Regions from separate parts of the Homo sapiens genome. Here regions 2 and 3 are each linked to region 1. The links come from fine-mapping of genetic effects on gene expression. A gene starts in region 1. Each other region holds a variant in brackets. All regions are shown on one strand. Distances are between the middles of the regions.

The links. PIP is the estimated chance that this variant, and not a neighbour inherited with it, causes the effect.
Region 2: its variant is the best candidate, but not a certain one, in a credible set for the expression of PHIP in lung (TOPMed, PIP 0.56).
Region 3: its variant is the best candidate, but not a certain one, in a credible set for the expression of PHIP in esophagus mucosa (GTEx, PIP 0.69).

What each region holds. Positions count from the first base shown.
Region 1 is chr6:79,075,376-79,080,914 of GRCh38, forward strand. PHIP (PHIP subunit of CUL4-Ring ligase complex) reads right to left here and starts at 2,879. Exons shown (of 40, transcript NM_017934.7): 1 at 2,654-2,879; 2 at 2,480-2,538; 3 at 2,325-2,354; 4 at 2,073-2,132. The coding sequence starts at 2,693. LOC124901346 (a long non-coding RNA gene) reads left to right here. Exons shown (of 2, transcript XR_007059652.1): 2 at 1-1,891. RefSeq lists silencers at 1,598-2,097, 2,597-2,766, 2,897-3,136 and an enhancer at 3,257-3,306.
Region 2 is chr6:79,128,698-79,134,236 of GRCh38, forward strand. No RefSeq gene overlaps it. Among named protein-coding and RNA genes, the nearest start is that of PHIP, 53 kb to the left of the region's middle. The variant C/T (reference allele first, on the strand shown) is at 2,722.
Region 3 is chr6:78,787,172-78,792,710 of GRCh38, forward strand. No RefSeq gene overlaps it. Among named protein-coding and RNA genes, the nearest start is that of IRAK1BP1, 78 kb to the right of the region's middle. The variant C/G (reference allele first, on the strand shown) is at 3,198.

The DNA of each region.
Region 1 (5,539 bases):
TAATAAGATTTCTAAACTGTCTGATGAGTATGCCAACGTTCCTGTTCTAGTAAGGAGAAAACTCCAAGCAAGAAAAACCACTTCCATTCAAAATAGGTGAATTTTGAGCATAATACATAGATAGAAAGAATGCTTACTGTATCTTAAATCTGCGATGCAGACTAGGGATAGAAATTCACTTTACTAATAATTCCTCCCCCCACCCTCCCCCCAAAAATTAAATTAACTCAAAATCAAAATTGATAGCTCATTTTTACTGAAAAAAAAAACAAAAAAACAAAATGATATTCCTACGAGGATTAGCCATTACCATAATTTAGCCAGATAACATTAAGCTGCTTCATTTAAAAAATGTAACATTACCAAAAGATTAAGAAAATGCAGCATTCCTCAGTGACTTAAGGTTTGTGGGTTTTTAAGAGATGCACAGATGTAAAAGCAGATGCAAAGACGAGTTTTGTAAAACCTGCCCCATCTTAAAAATGGAGTATTATAATCTTTGCGATAATTTTTTCAAATATCAAGGAAGACATGTAAATTCACTGAAGACTTCTATCAAGTATTTGTAAACCTAAAAATTAATTTCAAATTAGTAAATCTTGGAGTTTACTTCCAGCTCCATTCACTTTGGCCAAGAATTGAATGAAAGTAACCCAAATCACTCCTTGAAAATTAACACACGTTCAGTGTGAAAATGAATACACTAATACACTGTTAAATCTCCATTAGATGTATTAAACCTCAGTACCCTTGCTTATTTCAACAGCCTTGAGCGGTTATCAACATCTTATATTAAACCACAAGAGATTTATACACAAAAGTTAGGAAATACACTACATACCAAAAAAAGCGCCATTATAATCATGTCCTGCTTTCACCTCACAAAAGACACTCATTCTAAGCTCGCTGAAACTTCCTAGTCATTAGAGAAGTTCTGATGAAGTAACATTAGTAATCATAACTATCTCAAAACAGTTACAAAAGCCTCATAAAATCAACACACTACATAAATTTCAAAGGCTTGGTGGGTCCGGTGCGACTGCTTTAACTGCCCCACACACATATTCACACAACGAACCTGTATCAGTTTAGGAGAAAGTGTTACAGAAAATATAGCTCCTTTAAAGTAACTTCCAATCACAATACTGAAGTGATAAATCCACTTCTGAAAAGCAATTTTTAAAGATTCCTAAAATACTCATTTTGACAACCCACAAAATTAAGGTTTTTAAGCTATTAAACAAAATATGTCCCAATATAAACACAACTTTCATAGGCCAAGTTCCATCCCACAGTAAATATGTGGACAAAAATCAAAACTCTTCAGTGTACTCCAATAATAATTTTTAATTAAACGAGAGGCATACCATAAGAATTAAAAAAAGCCTACTAAACTTCTGGTTTTAGGGAATTACAGGCTTTACACTTCTGCAAAGATGTGTTTTAGTAAATGCAAGACGAAGCACTGACCAACTATCATCACACATCAGAATCCTTCCAACAAAAAACCCAGGACTGAATTTAAGGAAAACAAAATAAACGACAGAGGGGGAAAAAATAATGTCTTGCCACGGTACCGCAGCGGCTGGATAGCCTGCTTGTGAAATGCTAATGCCACTTCGGAGCAGTTAGTCACCAGCTATTGTGTAGGGCAGGAGAAAGCCGAGCCGGCCGCGCGTGCAGAGCGAGCAAGCGAACGAGCGAGCGCGCTCTCCCTCTTCGCGCCGCTCCCGCCGCCGCCGACTCTCGCGCGCCCCCGCGCCCGCACGGACGCGCGCGCCGGCCCCTCCTCCTCCGGCCTTGCACTGCACAACACTCATGACGTATCTTTATTTCTAGCACATTAACAAAATATCACAAATAAATTGTCCGCAGCCCCTGCGGCCCCGAAGTACGAGTACCCCCGGCCACTGGCCCCCGCAGACCCCGCGCCGGCCTCCCAACCCTCCCCATGGCCTTTGGAGCTTTCACGTTCTAGGGCCAAGTTTTTGTCTCTGTAAAAAATTGCGGGAAATTCAATTTTTATTCGACTCAGGGAAAAGTTTCTTTGCTCTGCGACGTGAATGTCTCACCAGATTCTGGTAGGTCCTGGGATGCTCCTTCCCGGTCCAGTCGGTGCGCCGGGGCAGCAGCTGCGGGGAGAGGACACCCCGTGAGCCCGGCCCCCGGCCCCTACCCGCCCGCTCCCCTCCCCCGCCCGCCCCGCGCCCCGGCGGGGACCCCGAGCCCCGCGCCCCGCGCCCTGCCGGCGGCGGCAGCGGCGGCGCAGCGGCCCAGAGGCGGCCGCGCGGCGGCGGGACGCGCCGGGCCGCCGCCGCCCTTACCTCCTTCTCGGCCACCTCGCGGATCAGCACCTGCAACAACAAAGCGGGGAGAGCTGAGCCCCGCGCCCCGGGCCGCGGCCCCGCCGCCGCCGCCTCCCTCCCCCACGCCCGCGAGCGGCGAGCGCCGGCCCGGCCCGCGCCGCGCGCCGCCGTACCTGAGCCGCCTGCTGACAGGGTCCATCTTCCAGGAACCGGGCGATGAGGAAGTAGAGCTCTGCGCGGGAGAGAGGGACGGGGAGACACACAGGCTGAGCGGTCGGGCGGCGGGGGGCGGGGGACCGCGGGCGGAATCGCCCGGTGCCAGCGGCCCCGGCAGCCCCCCGACTTACCCGATCGCAGCTCCGAGAGGCCTTTCCTCTCACAAGACATGTTTATGGGTCACTTCAGGGCCGCCGACGGGACACCCCGCCGCCGAGGGGAAGCGGGGACGGTGCCGCCGCCTGCCCTATAGCTGTCAGTGTGTGTTCACGAGCCGAGCTTCGGCTCCACCATTCAAGCAACGGCGGCGGAGGCGGAGGAGGAGGAGGAGGAAACAACAACTCTCAGGCAGCGACTACGGCCGTGGCCGCCTCCGCCGCGGATCCCTCCGCCGCAGAAAGGAGTCCGCCGCCTTCGCGGCCCAGGGCTCGGCCCCGGCTCTGGCCCGCGCCCCCGCCCCCCGGCGCTAAAAAAGGAGTGCCTCCGACCCCTCGTCCCCAGCGCTCCGCACGCGGCACAGTGAGACCCCCACCCGCTCCTCCCCGCAGGGCGTGCGATTTATTTATTTATTTCCAGTCGGAGAAGATGTCGGAGCCCAAGCCGCCGGTTGGCTGGAAGGCGCTTTCTCTGTGGAGGCCGATAGTGGCAGGGAGGGGGCCGGGGACGGTTCCGCGGAGGGATCTGACGCACACGGAGCCGCAGCACAGGCTCTATTCAGCGGCGCTGGCTGGAGCTGAGATGGAAGTTAGTTTCTATGTAGCAGAAATATGAAACAAATGAAGCAAAACTGCCCAGAGAGGGGAAATGCCCCAAGGATGGGTCTCACTCACGCGCGTACACAGACACACACGCAGAGAGCACTCTCACGCTGGGCAAGCTCGGGATCGCGCTACCCTTCCCGAGTTGAATGATAGTGTTTGGTTTCTGTCTCTTGCCATGTGCATGTGTATAAATGCTGCGGATTGGCATCTGTGTAAGTCTTGTCCTGCGTTATTTCTGCAGCCTATGCAAGTGTTGTGTAATTTATTGGAGTGCTGTATATTGCAATAGAGGTTTGGGCTGCTTTTTGTTAAGCACTTGCGTTTTGCAAACCCGTTATTTGCTGAAGCCACCTCTGCATATTTCTTTTATTACTGCCATTGCCTTTGGCGTACGTTTTTTAAATGTTTTTTATTGTTAAACGGGCAAAGCGAACTCTTGATTTGTACTTCAGATACTCTTTTTCCTTATTACAAAAAGGCTAGTGATGGCTAATTAGGTATTTGGAATTAAAGAACCTTAAAGCTTTTTTAAGTGTTTACGAGAAGGGAGAATGTAAACCTGAGGGAAAGGAAAGGACGCTAATATTCATGTCTAACTGATCTGGAGGTAATTTAGTGACAGATCGATAACCTGCCTAAGGATATTGAAAGAGTATACTACAGTTTAGCCAAGGTGAATAGTGATTAAATAATTTAAATAATCTGTGTATCTTGCAGTTGACTTCGTCATGCTAATTAATGGCTTCTAATTTGAGATGTAAACCATTCCTGTTTACAGTTAATCACGGGAAGACTTCTTGAAAACTGACGAAAAGGAGAAAAAAAAATCTTTCGTAAATTAGTATGTAATTACCGATTTTATATGCTAAATCATACATCTGTGTTTTGCTGATGAGGATAAGGGCCTTGTTTTTAAAAAAACGAATATGGGTGAAATTAATGGAAACAATAGAAAAAGCCATTTGTTAGAAAACAAGGACACCAAATGATATTTATCTCCAGATGATTTAAGCACTTTCCAAAAAGACTTGAGAGTTCAATATTTTTTAAGGATTGCATTTTAAAGGGAATTTGGATAGTCGTTCTTTTGTTAACATTTAACAAAAGATTCTCCTTAAAAATGTTAGATAATAAACTGCATTTTATGGGTCTGGTTTAAAAAGGTTATTTGTGGGGAAAGGACCAACAAGCTGTATTGTGGTTTTCTAGATTGTTTCCTCAAGCCTTGTAACCTCCTAGCTCCTTACATTCCTAGTGGGAAATACTTGCTGCAAATGCCTTGGGCTGCACTGTAAGCCCAAGTGTGCTGCACCAGTGTGATGCCCTATACTAAAACATCCAGAAATCATCATACATATGAGGAAGAAGAAATAAAGCCTCAAACCCTTTGGAATAATAGGATATAAAATTGCCTTTTGTAACTGAATCTTAAAAATGGAAGGTTACCATGACTTGTCCTATTGCAACCTGGTTATCAGAATAACTTATTTTTTTTAAGATAGCTATTCTCAAATACTGAACATATTTGCATCTTTAAAGACACTTTATTCTATTCAATTATAGGTAAAGTAGCCTATTTCTAGGTGGTTAGGCTTGAAAAGATAGACTGAAAAGATAGGAAATTTTGTATGCCTTTTTGCAAATTGTATTTACTTCTAAGACCGATGCTGTTTTAGCTTAACTTTTAAAAAAGTGTTCTTCAAATAATTGTAATATTTTACACGATCTTGAAGTTCTTCAAATAAACAGAGTTTAGAAACTAAAAATTATAGTGGGATTTTCTGGTTTTGAAGGCTTGGAATGTATGATTCTTACTAATAGATGTTTTATTCTTGTGATTGAAAATAAACCAAATTATGACATGGAATATAATATTACTCTGGGTAAAGTTTGTGATATATATCTTCTGTGTGTTTTGTAAACATAGAAAACTAGCATGATTATCTCATATATTCTTTTCATTTAGAAGCCACAAAAGCTTTCACCTAAATATGCTACTAGTACTTAGCTCCTTAAAAATTTTTTGGAAAATCCCCCTCTAAGTTTTCTAAACATGATGTTCCTGTCATTTTGATTGATTTTTGACAGTGTTTATATTTCTTTTTCAAATGTCCAATATGCAGATTGTTGTAACCTTCCCTTTGAACTATTGTCTGTTATAAGAAAATATACATTACCTGCTAAAAATTAAAACTTCCCTTCAGCCAAATAAACTATTTGTATTTAACAGTGGATATTGAATTGAATTTTACTAAG
Region 2 (5,539 bases), 53 kb after region 1:
TTCTGAAATAAGACAGACAAGAATAGAGAAAAAGAAGGAAAATGAATAAACAAAATTTCCAAGAAATATGGGATTATGTGAGGATATCAAATTTGTGACTCACTGGTGTTCTTGAAAGAGATGGGGAGAATGAAACCAACTTGGAAAATGTACTTCAGGATACCATGCATGAGAACCTCCCTAACCTAGCTAGCAAGGCCAACATTCAAATTCAGGAAATGCAGAGAACCCCAGCAAGATACTTCACAAGAAGATCATCCCTAAGACACATAATCATGAAATTCTCCAAGGTCCAAAGGAAAGAAAAAATGTTAAAGGCAGCTAGAGAGAAAGGTCAGGACACCTACAAAGGGAAGCTCATCAGACTAATAGCAGACCTCTTAGCAGAAAACCTACAAGCCAGAAGCAATTAGGGGTCAATATTCAACATTCTTTTTATTTTTATTTTATTTTTTTAAAGATTTCCATGGGTTATTGGGCAACAGGCAGTGTTTGGTTACATGAGTAAGTTCTTTAGTGGTGATTTGTGAGATTTTGGTGCACCCGTCACCTGAGCAGTATACATGTCACCCAATTTGTAGTCTTTTATCCCTCAGTCCCTTCCCATGCTTTCCCCCGAGTCCCCAAAGTCCATTGTGTCATTCTTATGCCTTTGCATCCTGATAGCTTAGCTCCCACTTATGAGTAAGAAGATACGATATTTGGTTTTCTATTCCTGAGGTACTTTACTTACCATAATAGTTTCCAATCTCATCCAGGTCATTAATTCACTCCTTTTTATGGCTGAGTAGTATTTTATTTTATATATATATATATATATATATATATATATATATATATATATATATATATATATATCTATCTATCTCACAGTTTCTTTATCCACTTATTGACTGATGGGCATTTGGGTTGGTTCCACATTTTTGTGATTGCAAATTATGCTGCTATAAACATGTGTGTGCAAGTATCTTTTTCATATAATGACTTCTTTTCCTCTGGGCGGATACCCAGTAATGGGATTGCTGGATCAAATGGTAGTTCTACTTTTAGCTCTTTAAGGAATCTTCACACTGTTTTCCATAGTGGTTGTACTAGTTTACATTCCCACCAGCAGTGTAGAAGTGTTCCCTGTGGACTGCATCCACATCAACATCTATTATTTCTTTATTTTTTTATTATGGCCATTCTTGCAGGAATAAGGTGGTATCGCATTGTGGTTTTGACTTGCATTTCCCTGATCATTAGTGATGCTGAGCATTTTTTCATATGTTTTTTGGCCATTAATATATCTTCTTTCAAGAAATGTCTATTCATGTCCTTAGTCCACTTTTTAATGGGATTGTTTGCTTTTTTTCTTGCTAATTTGTTTGAACTTGTTATAGATTCTGGATATATTAGTCCTTTGTTGGATGTATAGATTGTGAAGATTTTCTCCCACTCTGTGGGTTGTGTGTTTTCTCTGCTAACTGTTCCTTTTGCCGTGCAAAGCTCTTTAGTTTAATTAAGTCACAGCTATTTATCTTTGTATTTATTGCTTTTGTTTTTGGGTTCCTGGTCATGAAAACTTGCCTAAGCCAATGTCTAGAAGGGTTTTTCCAATGTTATCTTCTTGAATTTTTATAGTTTCAGGTCTTAGATTTAAGTTCTTGATCCATCTTGAGTTGATTTTTGTATAAGGTGAGAGATGAAGATCCAGTTTCATTCTCCCACATGTGGCTTGCCAAGTATTCCAGCACCATTTGTTGAATAGAGTGTCCTTTCCCCATTTTATGTTTTTGTTTGCTTTGTCTAAGATCAGTTGGCTGTAAGTATTAGGGTTTATTTCTGGGTTCTCTATTCTGTTCCATTGGTCTATGTGCCTATTTTTATAGCAGTACCATACTTTTCAGTGACTATGACCTTACGGTACAGTTTGACATCAGATAATGTAATGACTCCAGATTTGTTCTTTTTCCTTAGTCTAGTTTTGGTTCTGTGGGCTTTTTTGGTTCTGTATGAATTTTAGAATTGTTTTTTCTAATTCTGTGAAGAATGATGGTGGTATTTTGATGGGAATTGCATTGAGTTTGTAGATTGCTTTTAGCAGTATGTTCATTTTCACAATATTGATTCTACCCATTCATGAGCATGGGATGATTTCTTTCAGCAGTGTTTCTTAGTTTTCCTTGTAGAGGTCTTTCACCTCCTTGGTTAGGTATATTCCTAAATATTTTATTTATTGCAGCTATTGTAAAAGACATTGAGTTCTTGATTTGATTCTCAGCTTGGTCACTGTTGGTGTATAGAGGAGCTACTGATTTATGTACATTAATTTTGTATCCAGAAACTTTGCTGAATTCTTTTATCAGTTCTCGGAGCTTTCTGGAGGATTCTTTAGGACCTTCTAGGTAAACAATTGTATCATCTGCAAACAGCGACAGTTTGACTTCCTCTTTACCCATTTGGATGCCCTTTATTTCTCTTGTCTGATTGCTCTGGCTAGGACTTCCAGTACTATGTTGAAGAGAAGTGGTGAGAGTGGGCATCCTTGTCTTGTTCCAGTTCTCAGAGGGAATGATTTCAACTTTTCCCCATTCAGTATGATGTTGACTTTGGGTTTGTCATAGATGGCTTTTATTATATTGAGGTATGTCCCTTGTATGTCAATTTTGCTGAGAGTTTTAATCATAAAGCCATGCTGGGTTTTGTTGAATGCTTTTTCTGCAGCTATTGAGATGATCA[C/T]GTGATTTTTGTTTTTGATTCTGTTTATGTGGTGTATCACATTTATTGACTTGCATATGTTAAACCATCCCTGCATCCCTGGTATGAAACCCACTTGATCATGGTGGATTATCTTTTTGATATGTGTTGGATTTGGTTAGCTAGCATTTTGTTAAGGATTTTAGCATTTATGTTATTAGGGATATTGGTCTGTAGTTTTCCTTTTTGGTTATGTCCTTTCCTGGTTTTGGTATTAGGGTGATACTGGCTTCGTAGAATAATTTGGGGAGGATTCCCTCTTTATCTTGTGGAATAGTGTCAATAGGATTGGTACCAATTCTTGGAATGTCTGGTAGAATTCTGCTGTGAATCCATCTGGTCCTGGATTTTTTTTGTTGGTAATTTTTTTTATTACCGTTTCAATCTCACTGCTTGTTATTTGTCTGTTCAGGGTATCTAATTCTTCCTGATTTAAGCAAGGAAGGTTGTATTTTTTTGAGGAATTTGTCCATCTCCTCTAGGTTTTCTAGTTTATGTTCATAATGGTGTTCATAGTAGCCTTGAATAATCTTTTGTATTTCTGTGGTGTCAGCTGTAATATCATCCGTTTCATTTCTAATTGAGCTTATTTGGATTTTCTCCCTTTTCTTGGTTAGTCTTGCTAATGGTCTGTCAATCTTATTTATCTTTTCAAAGAACCACCTTTTTTTCATTTTGTATTTTTGTTTGTTTGTTTTAGTTTCATTTAGTTCTGCTCTGATCTTGGTCATTTCCTTTTTTCTGCTTGGTTTGGGTTTGGCTTGTTCTTGTTTCTCTAGTTCCTTAAGGTGTGACCTTAGATTGTCTGAGCTCTTTCAGGCTTTTCGATGTAGGCATCTAGGGCTATGAACTTTCCTCTTAGCCCCGTCTTTGCTGTATTCCAGAGGTTTTGACAGGTTGTATCATGATTGTCGTTCAGTTTGAAGAACTTTTAAATTTCCATCGTGATTTCGTTTTTGAGCCAATGATCATTCAGGAGCAGGTTATTTAATTTCCATGTATTTGCATGGTTTTGAAGGTTCCTTGTGGAGTTGATTTCCAGTTTTATTCCACTGTGGTCTGAGAGAGTGCTTGATATAATTTCAATTTTCATAAATTTATTGAGACTTCTTTTGTGGCCTATTATATGGTCCATCTTGGAGAAAGTTCCATGCACTGTTGAATAGAATGTATATTATGTGTTTGTTGGGTAGAATGTTCTGTAAATATCTGGTAAGTCCATTTACTACAGGGTATAGTTTAAATCAATTGTTTCTTTGTTGACTTTCTGTCTTGATGAACTGTCTCATGCCATCAGTGGAGGATTGAAGTCTCCCACTATTATTGTGTTTCTGTCTATCTCATTTCTTAGGTCTCTTAGTAATTGTTTTATAAATTTGGGACCTCCAGTGTTAGGTGCATATATATTTAGGATTGTAATATTTTCCTGTCGGACAAGGCCTTTTATTATTATATAATGTCCCTCCTTGTCTTTTTTAACTGCTGTTGCTTTAAAATTTGTTTTATCTGCTAACACAGGAACAGAAAACCAAACACCGCATGTTCTCACTCATAAGTGGGAGTTGAACAATGAAAACACATGGACACAGGGAGGGGAACATCACACATCGGGGCCTGCCTGGGGGTGGGAAGCAAGGGGAGGGATAGCATTAGGAGAAATAGCTAATGTAGATGACAGGTTGATGGGTGCAGCAAAGCACCATGGCACATGTATACTTATGTAACAAACCTGCACATTCTGCACATGTGTCCCAGAACTTATAGTATAATAAAAAAAAACATGTTTTGTCTGATATAGGAATAGCTACTTCTGGTCGCTTTTGGTGTCCATTTGCATGGAATGACTTTTTCCATCCCTTTACCTTAAGTTTACGTGAATCCTTATGTGTTAGTTGTGTCTCTTGAAGGCAGCAGATCGTTGGTTGGTGAATTCTCATCCATTCTGCAATTTGTATCTTTTAAGTGGAACATTTAAGCCATTTATGTTCAATATTAGTATTGAGATGTGAGCTACCATTCCATTCATTGTGCTATTTGTTGCCTGTACCTTTTTTTAAATTGCATTTTTGTTTTATAGGTCCTGTTAGATTTATACTTTAAAGAGGTTCTGTTTTTATGCATTTCCAGGATTTGTTTCAAGATTTAGAGCTCCTTTTAGCAGTTCTTATAGTGCTGGCTTGGTGGTGGTGAATTCTCTCAGCATTTTTTTGTCTGAAAACAACTGTATCTTTCCTTCATTTGTGAAGCTTAGTTTCGCTGGAAATAAAACTCTTTGCTGATAATTGTTTCATTTGAGGAGGCTGAAGATAGGGTCCCAATTTCTTCTAGCTTGTAGGATTCTGCTGAGAAATCTGCTGTTAATCTGATAGGTTTTCTTTTTTAGGTTACCTGGCATTTTTGCCTCATAGCTTTTAAGATTCTTTCCTTTGTCTTAACTTTAGATAACCTGATGACAATGTGCCTAGGTGATTACCTTTTTGCGATGAATTTCCCAGGAGTTCTTTCAGCTTCTTGTATTTGGATATCTAGTTCTCTAGCAAGGCTGGGAAAGTTTTCCTCAATTACTCCCCCAAACATATTTTCCAAACTTTTAGGTTTCTTCTCTTCCTCAGGAATGTTGATTATTCTTAAGTTTGGTTGTTTAACCTAATCCCAGATTTCTTGGAGGCTTGGTTCATATTTTCTTATTCTTTTTTCTTTGTCAGATTGGGTTAATTCAAAAACCTTGTCTTTGAGCTCTGAAGTTTTCTCTTCTGCTTGTTCGATGCTATTGCTGAGACTTTCCAGAGCATTTTGCATT
Region 3 (5,539 bases), 290 kb before region 1:
CCTTGAGGAATTGCCACACTGTCTTCCACAATGGTTGAACCAATTTACACTCCCACCAACATTGTAAAAGCGTTCCTAAGAAAATGATATTTTAAAATGCTATTTACAGTAGCCTAAAAACAATAATAAATGTAATGAAAACACTGAAAACTAAAAACCATTTCTCAAGAACATTTAAAGAAGATCTAAATAAATGAAGACAATTTAAATATATATGCTCTGGTCATGTATTTGAAGATTCAACATTATTAAACTATCAATAATTCCCCCAAATTAATCTGTATATCCAATTCAATCCTAACCAAAATCCCAAAAAAATCCATTTTAACTGTTGAACTCAGTTTACAATTTATATACAAATTCAAAGAATTTAGAATAGACAAAACAATTTTGAAAAACAACAAAGTTGTAGGATTTACACTCCCTGATTTCAAGATTTACTATAAAGCTATAGCGGTTTTTACAATGTGATCTTTGGCCAAGAATAGAGAAGTAAATCAATGGAACAAGATGAGGTCCAGCCATAAGCCCACCTATACATGGTCAATTGGTTTTCAACAAAAATACTAAGGCAATTTAAGAAAGAAAGATAATGTTAATAAATGGTCTGGAACAACTGAATCTCCATAAGAAAAAAAGAAGAATCTTGACCACTACCTCTTACCATGCTAAAAAAAAAAAGGGGGAGGCGGGTGAATATCTTCATGAGTGTGGAGTAAAGATTTGTTTACACTAGGCCAAAATATGTGTGTGTGTGTATATATATATATAAACTTTAATAAATTTTACTTCATCAAAATTAAAAACTATAACTATTCAAAAACACCATTATGAAAATGAAAAGGTGATCCACAGATTGGGAGGTAAATCTTTCCAAAACATGTATCTGACTAGTATTAAAGATATACAAAGAGTTCTGTATCAATCAGGGCTTGATTAATGAAACAGAACCACTAAGAGTCCCATACATATGTGTATGTATATATATATATATATATATATATATATATATATATATATATATATATGTATATAAACATATTTCATTATATGGATTTGATCTCATACATTTATGGGAGACTGTCTCTGTGAAACTGTTGTCTGTACATCTGATACTAGAGTCTGAGATCTGCTAATAAAGCAGTCAGGAAGAGAAATTAAATGCAATGTGAGAGAAGCAAGAAGAAACTCACCTATAAGGATGGGCTGAAATCTCCAAGGACAGACTGTACCAATCTCTCACCAACTTCAATCAAGCTTCCAACTTCAATGATTAGGGAGATGTATTAGTTTGCTAGAGTTGCCAGAGCAACACGATAAAAACTGGATAGCTTAAAATAGAAATTTATTGTCTTGGTTCTAGAGGCTAGAAATCTCAGATGAAGACATTAGCAGGGTTGGTTCCTCCTGAGAGCTGTGAGGGAGAACCTCTTCCATTCTTCTTGTTTAGCTTCTGGTGGTTTGCTGGCAATCTTTGGCATTCCTTGGTATCTGCTACATCACCCTAATCTCTTCCTTCATCTTCACATGGCATTCTCTGTGAATGTGTGTGTCTCTGTGTTCACATTGTCCCTTCTCAAAAGGACACCACTGTATTTGGATTAGGGCCCACTCTAATGACTCATTTTAACTTGATTACCTTTGTCTCTACAAAGACTCTATCTCTAAATAAGGTTACATTCCGGGGTACTGAAGGCTAGTATCCCAACATATATTTTTGGGGAGACACAAATTCAACTGACTACAGGAGATAAGTATGTACCTGGCCCAGGATTCAGCACAATGTAAAGAGGAAGTCTGGCTGGAGGAGCTATGAACTCAGATGCCACCTCATGCTCACAGGGTGACCAGCAAATTAGCAACAGTGTGTGTGAGCTGCAACAGTGCCACCTGCCTTGCTCCAGCTTTCCATGAATAAAAAGAAGATAGTTGCTGCTTTATGTCTGCATTCTAAATCCTGCACAAATTTTCAGGCTCAAAACAACCAGAGAGGGACATCCCAGAAAAAAGTAGTTCCAGTTTAGTTAAGGTGACACAATAGCAACTTCACCACAAACTCATACAACACAATGCAGACAAAATGCAATTTTCAAATGAATAAAAGGTTTAGATATACCTTTCACAATATGAGATACATAAATGGACAAGAAACACATTTAAAGGTGTTTATTCCCATTAGTCTTCAGGAAAGTGCAAATTAAAATCATAATGACATACTACTGAATATCCCCCAAATGGCTAACGTTAAAACAAAAACCGGGGCATATCAAATGTTGATTGCAATGAGTTTTTAAGTTATCTTGAAGCACATGAAAATACTTTACCCAGCCAATAGTATATTCTATCATTATGGTAATTCATAATGATGATGTACCTTTATATTTGATTCCTTTACCAACTAAAGTGGGCATAGCCACTTTCAAGGCATAACAATGGCTCCCCAAAATGTTCACATTCTAATCTCAGAACCTATGAATATGTTAGGTTACATGGTAAAGGGAAACTAAGGTTGCAGAGGAAATTGAAGTTGTTAATCAGCTGACCTTAAAATAGAGAGATTATCTTGGATTATCCAATGGGTCCAGTGTAATCACAAGGATCATTCAAAAAAGGGGGAAGCAGAAGAGGGAGTGTCAGAGAAAAACATATAACAACAAAAGTATCATCAAAGCTACATTGCTAGCTTTGAAGATGGAGGAATGAGACCCCAAATCAGTGAATGTGAGCAGGCTCTAGAAGCTGGAAAAGACAAGGAAACAGATTTTCTCCTAGTACAACCAGAAAGTAACACAGCCTGGTGGGCACCTTGATTTTAGCCCCAAGCAACTTGTGTTGGATTTCTGACCTACAAAACCATAAGATAATAAATTCGTGTTTTAAAGTGTGTAGTAATTTGTTACATCAGCCATTGGAAGTTAACACAAGTAGATACTATTAAGATTGTTTTACAGATAAAATAAAGCAGGGAAGTCCAGCATCTGGGCTATCACCAGTTGCTCACAGGGCCCAGACAGTCTACACCTTATGTTTCTGGGCTCTCACTCCATGATTCCTTCCACAGTGCCACCCAGCTTTCTCTGGGTGTGAGCAGGATCATGTCAGCAAATGACTCAAAGAAATTATGAGCAGTGAGACTCAGACATGGAACAGGTCTTAGCTTTCTGATAAGAAAGTCACGTACATCTCCACTCTCAAAA[C/G]TTCATGGATTTGAGCAGGGCACAGTGGCTCACACCTGTAATCCCAGCACTTTGGAAGGCCAAGTTAGGAGGATCACTTGAGGCCAGGAGTTGGAGACCAGCCTGGGAAACATAATTAGACCTAATCTCTGAGAAAAAAAAAATTAATTAGCTGGGGAAAGCTGGAATCATTCCCCTTGAAAACAAGCACAAGACAAGGATGACTCCTCTCACCACTCCTATTCAATATAGAATTGGAAGTCCTAGCCAGCACAACCAGGCAAGAGAGAGAGAGAAAAAGGGCATCTGAATAGGAAGAGAGAAAGTCAAACTATTCCTATTTGCAGATAACATAATCCTATTAACTAGAAAATCCCATAGTTTCAGCCCAAAAGCTTCTTGCTGATAAACAATTTCAGCAAAGTCTCAGGATATCAAAATCAGTGTACAAAAATCACTAGCATTTCTACACACAAACAACAGTCAAGCCAAGAGCCAAATCAGGAATGAACTCCCATTCACAATTGCCACAAAAAGAAGAAAATACCTAGGAATACAACTAGCTATGGAGGTGAAAGATCTCTATGAGGAGAACTATAAACCACTACTCAAAAAAATCAAACATGGCATAAACAATTGGAAAAATATTCCATGCTCATGGATAGGAAGAATCAATATTGTTAAAATAGCCATACCGCCCCAAGCAATTTATAAATTGAATGCTATTCCTATTAAACTACCAACGACATTCTTCACAGAACCAGAGAAAACGATCTTAAAATTCATATGAAACCAAAAAAGAGCCCAAATAGCCAAGGCATTCCTCAACAAAAAGGACAAAGCTGGAGGCATCACACTATCTGACTTCAAACTACTGTACCGGGCTACAGTCACAAAAGCAGCACGATACTGGTACAAAAACAGACACATAGACAAATGGAACAGAATAGAGAACCCAGAAATAAGACCATACACCAACTATTATCTGATCTTTGACAAATCTTACAAAAACAAGCAATGGGGAAAGGATTCCCTACTCAATAAATGGTGTTGGGAAAACTGGCTAGCCATAGGCAGAGGTTGAAACTGGTCCCCTTCCTAACACCTATATGAAAATTAACTCAAGATGAATTAAAGACTTAAATGTAAAACCCAAAAGTATAAAAACTCTGGAAGATAACCTAGGCAATAACATTCAGGATATAGGCACAGAGAAAGATTTCATGTCAAAGATGCCAAAACAATTGCAACAAAAACAAAAATTGACACATGGGATTTAATGAAACTAAAGAGCTTCTGAACATCAAAAGAAACTATCCACAGAGTAAACAGACAGCCTACAAAATGGGAGAAAATTTTTGCAAACCATGCATCCAAGAAAAGTCTAATATACAGCATCTATGAGGAACTTAAACAAATGTATAAGAAAGAAACAACACCATAAAAAGTAAGCAAAGGACATAAACAGACACTTTTCATAAAAAGACATACTTGTGGCCAACAACCATATGAAAAAAAGCTCAATATTACTGATCATTAAAGAAATGCAAATCAAAACCACAATGAGATACTATCTCACATCAGCCATAGTGACTATTAATTAAAAGTCAAAAAGTAACAGAAGCTGGCAAGGTTTGGGAGAAAAAGGAACACTTATATACTGTTAGTGGGAGTGTAAATTAGTTCAGCCATTGTGGAAGACAGTGTGGCAATTCCACAAAGACCTAAAGACAGAAATACGATTTGACCCAGCAATCCCATTAATGGGTATATACCCAAAGGAATATAAATATTATATTTATTTATATATATTATAAAGACACATGCACATATATGCTCATTGCAACACTATTCACAATAGCAAAGATGTGCAATCAACCTAAATGTCCATCAGTGAGAGACTGGATAAAGAAAATATGGTATATATACACCATGGAATACCATGCTGCCATAAAAAATAACAAGATCATGCTCTTTGCAGGAACATGGATGGAGCTGGAGGCCATTATCCTTAGCAAACTAACACAAGAATGGAAAAACAAATATCACATTGTCTCACTTATAAGTGGGAGCTAAATAAGGAGAACACATGGGCACATGGAGGAGATACTGGGGCCTACTTGAGTGTGGACAGTGGGAGGAGGGAGAGGATTTGGAAAAATAACTAAAGGGTAGTAGGCTTAATACCTGGATGACGAAAAAATCTGTACAACAATCCCCCATGACACAAGTTTACCTAAGTAACAGACTTTCACTTGTACCCTTGAACTTAAAAGTTAAAAAAATATCAGCCAGGTGTGGTGACGCACACCTGTAGTCTTAGTTACTCAAGAGGCTGAGGTGGGAGGATCCAGCAGTTCAAG